Homo sapiens: one gene and its partner. The protein of the gene in region 1 purifies or fractionates together with the protein of each later gene. This does not show direct contact. Each region holds a gene or a part of one and is shown on either strand. Other genes may lie near its edges.

Region 1 (5,356 bases):
ACTACTTCAGCTGGTGATGGAAAATAGTGGAATTCTATACATCCTTTGAGACAATGGAAGCAGCAAACCAGCGTTCTTTGGATTGGGGAATATTTTTGGTACTAACTGAAAAACATCATTTTAAGCCTGGCCCTGCTTAGAGGAGACTTGTTTTCTCTTCCCTCTCTCCCTCTCTTCCTTTTTTCCCTCCTTCCTCTTTTTCTTTCCTCCTTTCCTTCTTGTCTCCCTCCCTTCTCCTTCCTTCCTTCTTCCTCTTTTTCTTTCCTCCTTCCCTCCCTCCCTCCCTTCCTTCCTTTTTTCCTTTCTCCCCTCCTTCCTTCCTTTTTTTCTTCCTTCCTTCCTCCCTCCCTCCCTTCTTTTCTTCCTTTCTTCCTTTGCCCTAAAACTTGGGGGACCCTGCCTGCTCATTTTGTTTAGAATAGAAGATTACTACTTTTCTCTGAATTGTCATTTATTTTTAGAGAGGTAAGAAAAAAGGGAATAGCTGCCTTCCATATATACTTATGACATGGAGATTATCTACTCATTTAACTTTGCACTGCTATTGGCTGTTTATTTGGCTTTTGAAAAATCAGGTGCTATTTATTCATTGGGCTTGTGGGGAACTCTAGTAGCCCTGAATGGCATTTGTGGCATACTCAATGAAGTCTAATTCTTTATCCTGGCATTAAAGGCTTACCAAGATCTGGCCTCAATCTTGCAAATGAGCACTCTCTTATATACCTGAAGGAAAAGTGCTAATTTAGCCAACTAATAGAGATAGGTATAAATACCAATATAGACATAGATATGAAACTTTAGTTGCAAAGAAATGTTTAATATGCTTCAAAGTGCATATTTCCCTCTTCCATGCTTTATTGTCTATTCTTATCAGCAGAAATGTTTTCCTATTTTTCCTTACCTGTGATGTACCTATCCATCCTTTACAGTTGAGTTCAGATGCTACTTCTGTCATGAACCCATTATTTATCCTCCCTGTGAGAATTCATTTTTCCCTGTTTTTGGATCTTACAGCCTTTGATTTGAGCCCCCATTTCAGTCTGCTTTATACTACTGTCTTGCATGTTTTCCCATGATAAATAAGATGGTTTTTGGGAAACTGAACTTTGGACTTACTTGATTCTCTTATAACACCAGGAAATTGGCCAATTCTAGTTGAGTTATGGAAATATGTTGTCTGCTGCATACCAGGCAAGTTCAAGAATACCAGCAACTCCTGCTACTTAGGGTAATGGTACAAGTAGGATTAAGTGGATATAGTTGCTATCTATCTGTAGAAGACAATGAGTGAGTGCTGTCTTAAGTTTGGAAAGTAGTTGATTCTCTGCAGAGGGGTATAAACTACTGATGAAAGGAGAGTGACTCATTACTCCTAGAGATTCTGAATGGGAAGAATGCCAGCTTTATGTTTTCTGATACTGATTTTTTTTTTAATAACTTGGTGCAAAAGTAGAACATTATTCTAAGATGACTGTTGTGGAAGAAAAAAAAGGTAGAACATTAGAGTTGTAAAAATGTTTTTAACTATAAAGAGGAAAAAACTGAACTTATTTATAATTCATTTACCTAGAGAGAACATTCAACATTTTGGTCAATGTATTTTTTTTCTTTATATCTATGTAGATATATATTTCTTCATTTATTTAACAAATTGCTACTGACACCCTATGGTTTGCTGGAAGTGAGCTGTGTAGGAATAACCATGAGCCTCTGCTCTGATGTAATTTTTAGTGTATGTTGTATTTGTTGACATATAATTTTATATTTTGCTTTTTTCACTTAATGTATCATGGAATTTTTTCATATCATTAAATATTCTCTTTGTGTGGCACAATAGTATTTCAGCATGTAGATATTTTGTAATTTATTGAATGAATCCTTTTTGTTGCATATTTTCAATTTTGTCTGTAATTATATAGCAATGCAGGGAATAGTCCCGTGTAGCAGGTGGAATTCTAAGATGAACTCCAGTGACACTTACCTTGTATAATTCCCTCTCCCTGTGAACATGATGGGATATTACTTCCATGATTATGTTATGTTACTTGCAAGGGAATTTTGGAGATATAATTAAGGTTGCTAATCAATTGACTCTGAATTAATCAAAAGGGCAATATTCTAGGTAGACCTAACCTAATCAAGTGAGCACTTTAAGAACAGAGAGTTTTCTCCTGCTTGTGGCAGTAGAGGAAGTCAGAGAGATTCAAAGTGTGAAAGAGACTCTACAGGAGGAATGTTCTCCATTGCTGAAATGACAATTTCCCACAGACAAGGACCTGAGGGAAGCCTCTAGAAGCTGAGAGTAGTCCCTGCCAACAGCCAACCAAAAAAACTAGGGACCATAGTCCTACAACAGCAAGGAACTGAATTCTGCAAACAATCTGATTGCGCCTGGAAGCAAATTCTTCCCCAGAGCCTCCAGATAAGAGCCCAGCTTCTGACCAACATCTTGATTTCTACCTTGTGAGACCCTAAACAGAGGACCCAGTTGAGCCCACCTGGACTTAAGATCTACAGAACTGTGAGATAATAAATGGGTGTTGTTTTAAGGCATTGAGTTTGTGGTAATTTGTTGCATTAGCAGTAGAAAACTAATACATTTGTAAGAAATTATTTTTACATCTATAATTATTCTTTTGGGATAAAATCCTTGATATAGGCCGGGCATGGTGGCTCACACCTGTAATCCCAGCACTTTGGGAGGCCAAGGTGAACGGATCACGAAGTCAGAAGATGGAGACCATCCTGACTAACACGGTGAATCCCCGTCTCTACTAAAAATACAAAAAATTAGCCAGACGTGGTGGCACATGCCTGTAGTCACAGCTACTTGGGAGGCTGAGGCAGGAGAATTGCTTGAACCCAGGAGGCAGATGTTGCAGTTAGCTGAGATTGCACCACTGCACTCTAGCCTGGGTGACAAAGCGATACTCCCTCTTAAAAAAAAAAAAAAAATCCTTGATATAGACTTGCTAGATAAAACGTTATACACAGTTTTAAGGTTTGTATATCATATTGCAAATTTGCCCTCCATAAGCGTATTGTAACAATTTATGTGCCTCCTAACAACCTGTTACCTCACCCCAGCAAACGCTAGATACTGACATTCTGATAGGCAAAAACAAAAATGTTTTTTTTAAAAGAAGATTATGTTTTTCTTATTAATAGTAGGATTGACCATTGTTTTCTTTATTTGAAATTAATTTGGTGAGTCTTTTTTGATGATTTGCATATTCTTATTTTCTGATTAGCTTAACCATTGACATAGAGAAAATATTCCCTAACATGTAGAATAGCATTTCTCTGCTGTAATATTTTCAAGAGGGAGAATGATTAATGAGCTTGAAAGGATGACTATTCTGAGAAATATTAGCTGCTGCCATTACTCCTTGCAAAAGAATATCCCAGATGTTATACTGTTGGAGTTTGGAGAATGTCAGCTTCATTGATCAGGTAGTATTGATGCCTTATTCTTTTCTAGGGAAAAAGTCTAATTTGTCTGTTTGGCATTAGAAATGTGATTATTTTTAGGAATAAAGATGTATCTTATCATGGAAAATTGTAGCTTTGACTAATGTTAACTCAGGGGAAAAACCTAATCTTCCTAAATAAAGTTATCACATTTTCAATTTTCTCAAGATAATGAGCAATCTCTGATAGTATATATTATGTCACTTTAACCAGGATGGGAAAAGAAGAAATTCAAGTTACTTTTTCTATAATCCTTGCTGTTTGACATGATAGATTTTATTTCTGATAAATGAGATAAGGCAGGAGGGAGAGAGGAAGGAAGGGAGGGAGGAAGAGAGGGAGGGATTGGGAGAGGGAGGAAGGAAGGGAAGGAAGGAAAGAAAAAAGGGAAGGAAAGAAAAGAGGAAGGAAAGAAGGAAGGACGAAGTTGAGAGATTCTCATAGTAAATTTGGTTGGTTTTGTCTTTGAAAAATTAGTTTTTGCTATGTCAATTTCTGAAGGTTGGTATCTTCCTAATAAGAGCAAGAATTTTATTTTTATTTTGAAATAATTGCATATTTATAGGAAATTGTAGGAAAATATAAGAAGAGATCCCATATACAAGCAAGATTTTTTTAATGTTAGTTGTATGGTCAAATCTTATTACTTAGGTTTGCCCTCGCTGACAGATAGAGTTGCTATTTGTGTTCACAGAATTCATAATGGCCTATTCTTCCATGGAGGCCTAATGTTGCTTTTTTTTTTTTTTTTTTTTTTTTAAGGCATTGGAAATGCTGGCTTAGGTTGGTGCTGGGAGCATAGAATCCGTAACTATGGTCACAGGAGGTCCCACCAGTGTGATTCAAAGATACTGTAATATAGTTGTAAAGAATGCTGACTTGACATTTAGAAGCCTGGATTCTGGACTGCTCTTAACCACATTGTAACTGTGGGACCAATGAAATCCAGTTTTACCTTCCTCCTTAGTTATTTGGAATACAGGTAGTAAAACCATTTAAAAACTAAAACCCTGGGCTATCATTATTTTTAAGACTTTTTTCGAAATGACACTTTTTTAAAAAAAGAATTCCTTTACTGGTTGTAATTCCTATGATAAAAATTCCTCCTTTGAGTTGGACAACAAGGGCAGAAGAATTTTGGCAAAAGTTTTGTCAAAAGATTTTGTGCAAAAAGTTGTGCATCACCTGGGAAACCAGGAAGCCCAGCAAGAAGAATGGAGTGCCCACACTCACACAGAAGTAACACTGCTCATCAAATTAGCTTGTTATTATCTTGGCTGCCCCACAGATTCTGATAAGGGAGGTGCTGACTTGGGAAAGTAGAGGTGAGCCTATCTGGGGCCATGTGACTGTTCTCATGGCTTAAGAAAAGCCCTACTTTAGGCCGGGCACAGTGGCTCACGCCTGTAATCCTAGCACTTTGGGAGGCTGGAGGCAGCCGAGGCGGGCAGATCATGAGGTCAAGAGATTGAGACCATCCTGGCCAACATGTTGAAATCCCGTCTCTACTAAAAATACAAAAATTAGCTGGACGTGGTGGCGTGTGCCTGTAGTCCCAGCTACTTGGGAGGCTGAGGCAGGAGAATCGCATGAACCTGGGAGGCAGAGGTTGCAGTGAGCCGAGATTGTGCCACTGTATACCAGCCTGGGCGACAGAGTGAGACTCCATCTCAAAAGAAAAAAAAAAAAGAAAAGCCCTACTTTGAGTATAGATTTAAGGTGGGATTCTTGCTTCTGTTTGCAAGTAGGATTTTATAGTTTTCCAAATTGTAGATTCACACAGCCAAAAGACATGAGAGAGATAATGATGATGAGATCATCACCACCTATTTGTTGAGCACTTTCTTAAAGTACTAAATACTGTGCTACGTGCTTTACACTCTTT
Region 2 (3,500 bases), on another chromosome or scaffold:
CTCTGTCTCAAAAAAAAAAAAAAAAAAAAAATATATATATATATACATATATGTATGTATGTATGTATGTATGTAGTGGGGTTAGTCTACCTCACTTCCCTTGGAATAGTCAGTCCTTCAGGCACAAGGATACTTCTGAGGCTGGCCTTCTACCATCTTTTGCCACTAGGGAAGGAAGTTTTTAATGCAGAAATTCTTAACCTCAAGTCTAAGGATCCCCAAGGCATCCATAAAGAGAATTCAGAGTCCATGAATTTGGACAGGGAAAAAAATACAAATTTCTTTTCACCAATCTCCTATTAAAATACAGCATTTCTTTTCATTATGAACACAGGAAATAAATTGTAGCAGTATTATAGGACCTGGGACTTTGTGAACAATAGAAATGAAAAAAAAAAACCTTTCTATTATGCTAGTTTGCAGATATCTCAAAATATCATTTATGCTCATCATTACTTTACAATCATCATAGATATTAGACACATTATATAATGTGTTAATAAAGAAGCATATATATTACTATATCACACATTTTGTTTTAAAAATCTTTTGGGCTGGGTGCAATGGCTCACGCCTGTAATCCCAGCACTTTGGGAGGCTGAAGCGGGCAGGTCACGGGGTCAGGAGTTCAAGACCAGCCTGACTAACATGTAACATGACCAATCAGTAAGTTATTAGGAAGGCAGAGCCCTTTGTATTAGTCCATTCTCATATTGCTATAAAGAACTACCTGAGACTAGATACTTTATAAAGAAAAGAAGTTTAATTGGCTCACAGTTCCACAGGCTGTACAGGAGGTATGGCTGGGGAGGCCTCGGGAAACTTACAATCATGGTTTCATGGTTTCAGATTTGTCACATACCAAGAATTGTTGCTTTCTGTGGCACAGTCTACCCTGAATATAGCAGGCCAAACACAACCCTGTCCCAAAAATAGAGTGTGACTAACCAGTTTCTGGTACTAGGTGAGTCTCTAGACTACCTAGGTTAGTTGCAGTGTGCTGCAGTGGGGCTTACTGGTGTCATGGTCAAAGGAGTTTCCCAAGCACTGTCTATCATCAAAGGAGAAATAAGTTGAACTAAAGAGTAAGGAAAAGGTGGCCTGTAGGTCTAAGATCAGGAAATTACAATCAGTAAGTTATTAGGAAGGCAGAGCCCTTTCTATTAGTTCATTCTCATATTGCTATAAAGAACTACCTGAGACTAGATACTTTATAAAGAAAAGAGGTTTAATTGGGTCACAGTTCCACAGGCTGTACAGGAGGTATGGCTGGGGAGGCCTCGGGAAACTTACAATCACGGCAAAAGGTGAAGGGGAAGCCCAAACATTCTACATGGCTGGAGTAGGAAGGGGAGAGAGCAAAGAAGGAAGTGCTATACACTTTCAAACAACCAGATCTCATGAGAACAGCAAGACGAAATCCACCCCCATGATCCAGTCACCTCCCACCAGGCTTCTCCTCCAAGACTGAAGATCACAATTCAACATGAGATTTGGGTGGGGACACAGAGCCAAACCATATCACCCTTCAAGTCTCTATTACTTATGAGGTTTAATAAGGTCCTCTATTATGTCAAGCCTCTATTACTTATGTAGTTTAATGAGGTCCTGGAAAGGACCTCATAAGTAACATAGAGGAGAGAACTATCCAATCTCAAAACATTATCAGTATGACCTATAGTCCTGGATACTGAGGACTGATCAAGTCACTTAAAAAAATATATATACAATGGATATATTTTGTAAAGCCGGAAGACCAAAGTGCTATGTTCCAGTGGAATGATCAAATCACTTTTATTTTATTTTTCTTCAAATAGAGACAAAGTCTCACTATGTTGTCCAGGCTGGTCTCAAACTCCTGGACTCAAGTCTCAGCCTCCCAAAGTCTTGGGATTACAGGCATGAGCCACTGCGCCTGGCCAAAATATTTTTTATTTTATTTTATTTTTTGAGACAGTCTCTCACTCTGTTGCCCAGGCTGGAGTGCAGTGGCACGATCTTGGCTCACTGCAACCTCCACCTCCTGGGTTCAAGCGATTCTCCTGCCTCAGCCTCCTGGGTAACTGGGATTACAGACATGCGCCACCATGCCCGGCTAATTTTTGTATTTTTAATAGAGACGGGGTTTCACCATGTTGGCCAGGCTGGTCTCGAACTGCTGACCTCAGGCAATCCACCTACCTCAGCCTCCCAAAGTGCTGGGATTACAGGTGTTAGCCACCATGCCCAGCCTATTTATTTTTTTGAGAGTTTCCCTCTTGTCGCCCAGGCTGGAGTGCAGTGGCACAATCTCAACTCACTGCAACCTCTACCTCCCAGGTTCAAGCTATTCTCCTGCCTCAGCTTCCAGAGTAGCTGGGATTGCAAGCGCCCAACATCACGCCCAGCTAATTTTTGTATTTTTAGTAGAGACGGGGTTTTGCCATGTTGGCCAGGCTTGTCTTGAACTCCTGACCTTAGGTGATCCACCCACCTCAGCCTCCCAAAATGCTGGGATTACAGGCGTCAGCCACCACACCCGGCCCACCTTTATTTTTAAAATTAAATTAGGTTTGGTGTTTTGGATTTTTTTTTTAAAGCTTGACTCCACAGAGATAATCACTATTGACATTTTATTTGAATTATTATTACCATTTTTTTTTTTTGAGATAGAGTCTTGCTCTGTTGCCCAGTCTGGAGTGCTGTGACATGATCTTGGCTCACTGCAACCTCCGCCTCCCGGGTTCTAGCGATTCTTGTGCCTCAGCCTCCTGAGCAATTGGGATTACAGGCACCTGCCACCACACCTGGCTAATTTTTGTATTTTTAGTAGAGATGGGGTTTCATCATGTTGGCCAGGCTGATCTCAAACTCCTGACCTCAAGTGATCCACCCGCCTTGGCCTCCCAAAGTGCTGGGATTACAGCCATGAGGTACCGTGCCCAGCCTTTATGTGAATTATTCTTTAAATACAATATAAATCCTACTAAGGGTAGAAAAGCTACAATGGAAGGTCTTGCATCTTTCACATATCATATCCTTGCCACTATCAAACTAGGTAAGGAGAAAAGTAAAATATAAAATAAAAACAGCTAAAAAAGTATTACTGGTAAATTCTGCCAAACATGTAATGAAGTTTAACACCAACACTACACAAACACTTCCAGAAAAGAGAAAAGGACAGTACACTTCCCATCTCATATTAAACAAAGATATAACAAGAAAACTACAGACTGAAATCCTTCATGAACACAGATGCAAAGATTTTAAACAAAAATTTAGTGAATTCAGTTCAACAATATATAAAAAGAATACGCTACGACCAAATGGAGTTTATCCCAGGAATGCAAGATTAGTTTAACATTTACAAAAATCAATGTAATCCACCCTATTAACAGACTGAAAATGAAAAGACACGATCAGCTCAGTAGATACAGAATGAAATAACGATGTTGAGTGGAAAAAAGGTATACCAAAACAAGAGTATATACAATATGATTTCATTTATATAAAATTCTACA

What was found. The genes of interacting proteins can lie anywhere in the genome.
Region 2: the proteins of TIGD4 (region 1) and KIFBP purify together in Homo sapiens (affinity purification with mass spectrometry; 3 studies listed by BioGRID and IntAct, with this or other methods). This does not show direct contact.

Annotation. Positions count from the first base shown.
Region 1 is NC_000004.12:152,772,517-152,777,872, reverse strand, and holds part of TIGD4 (tigger transposable element-derived protein 4), read left to right. Parts: intron 1-5,356.
Region 2 is NC_000010.11:68,995,303-68,998,802, reverse strand, and holds part of KIFBP (KIF-binding protein), read right to left. Parts: intron 1-3,500. UniProt on the Homo sapiens protein: Activator of KIF1B plus-end-directed microtubule motor activity. Required for organization of axonal microtubules, and axonal outgrowth and maintenance during peripheral and central nervous system development.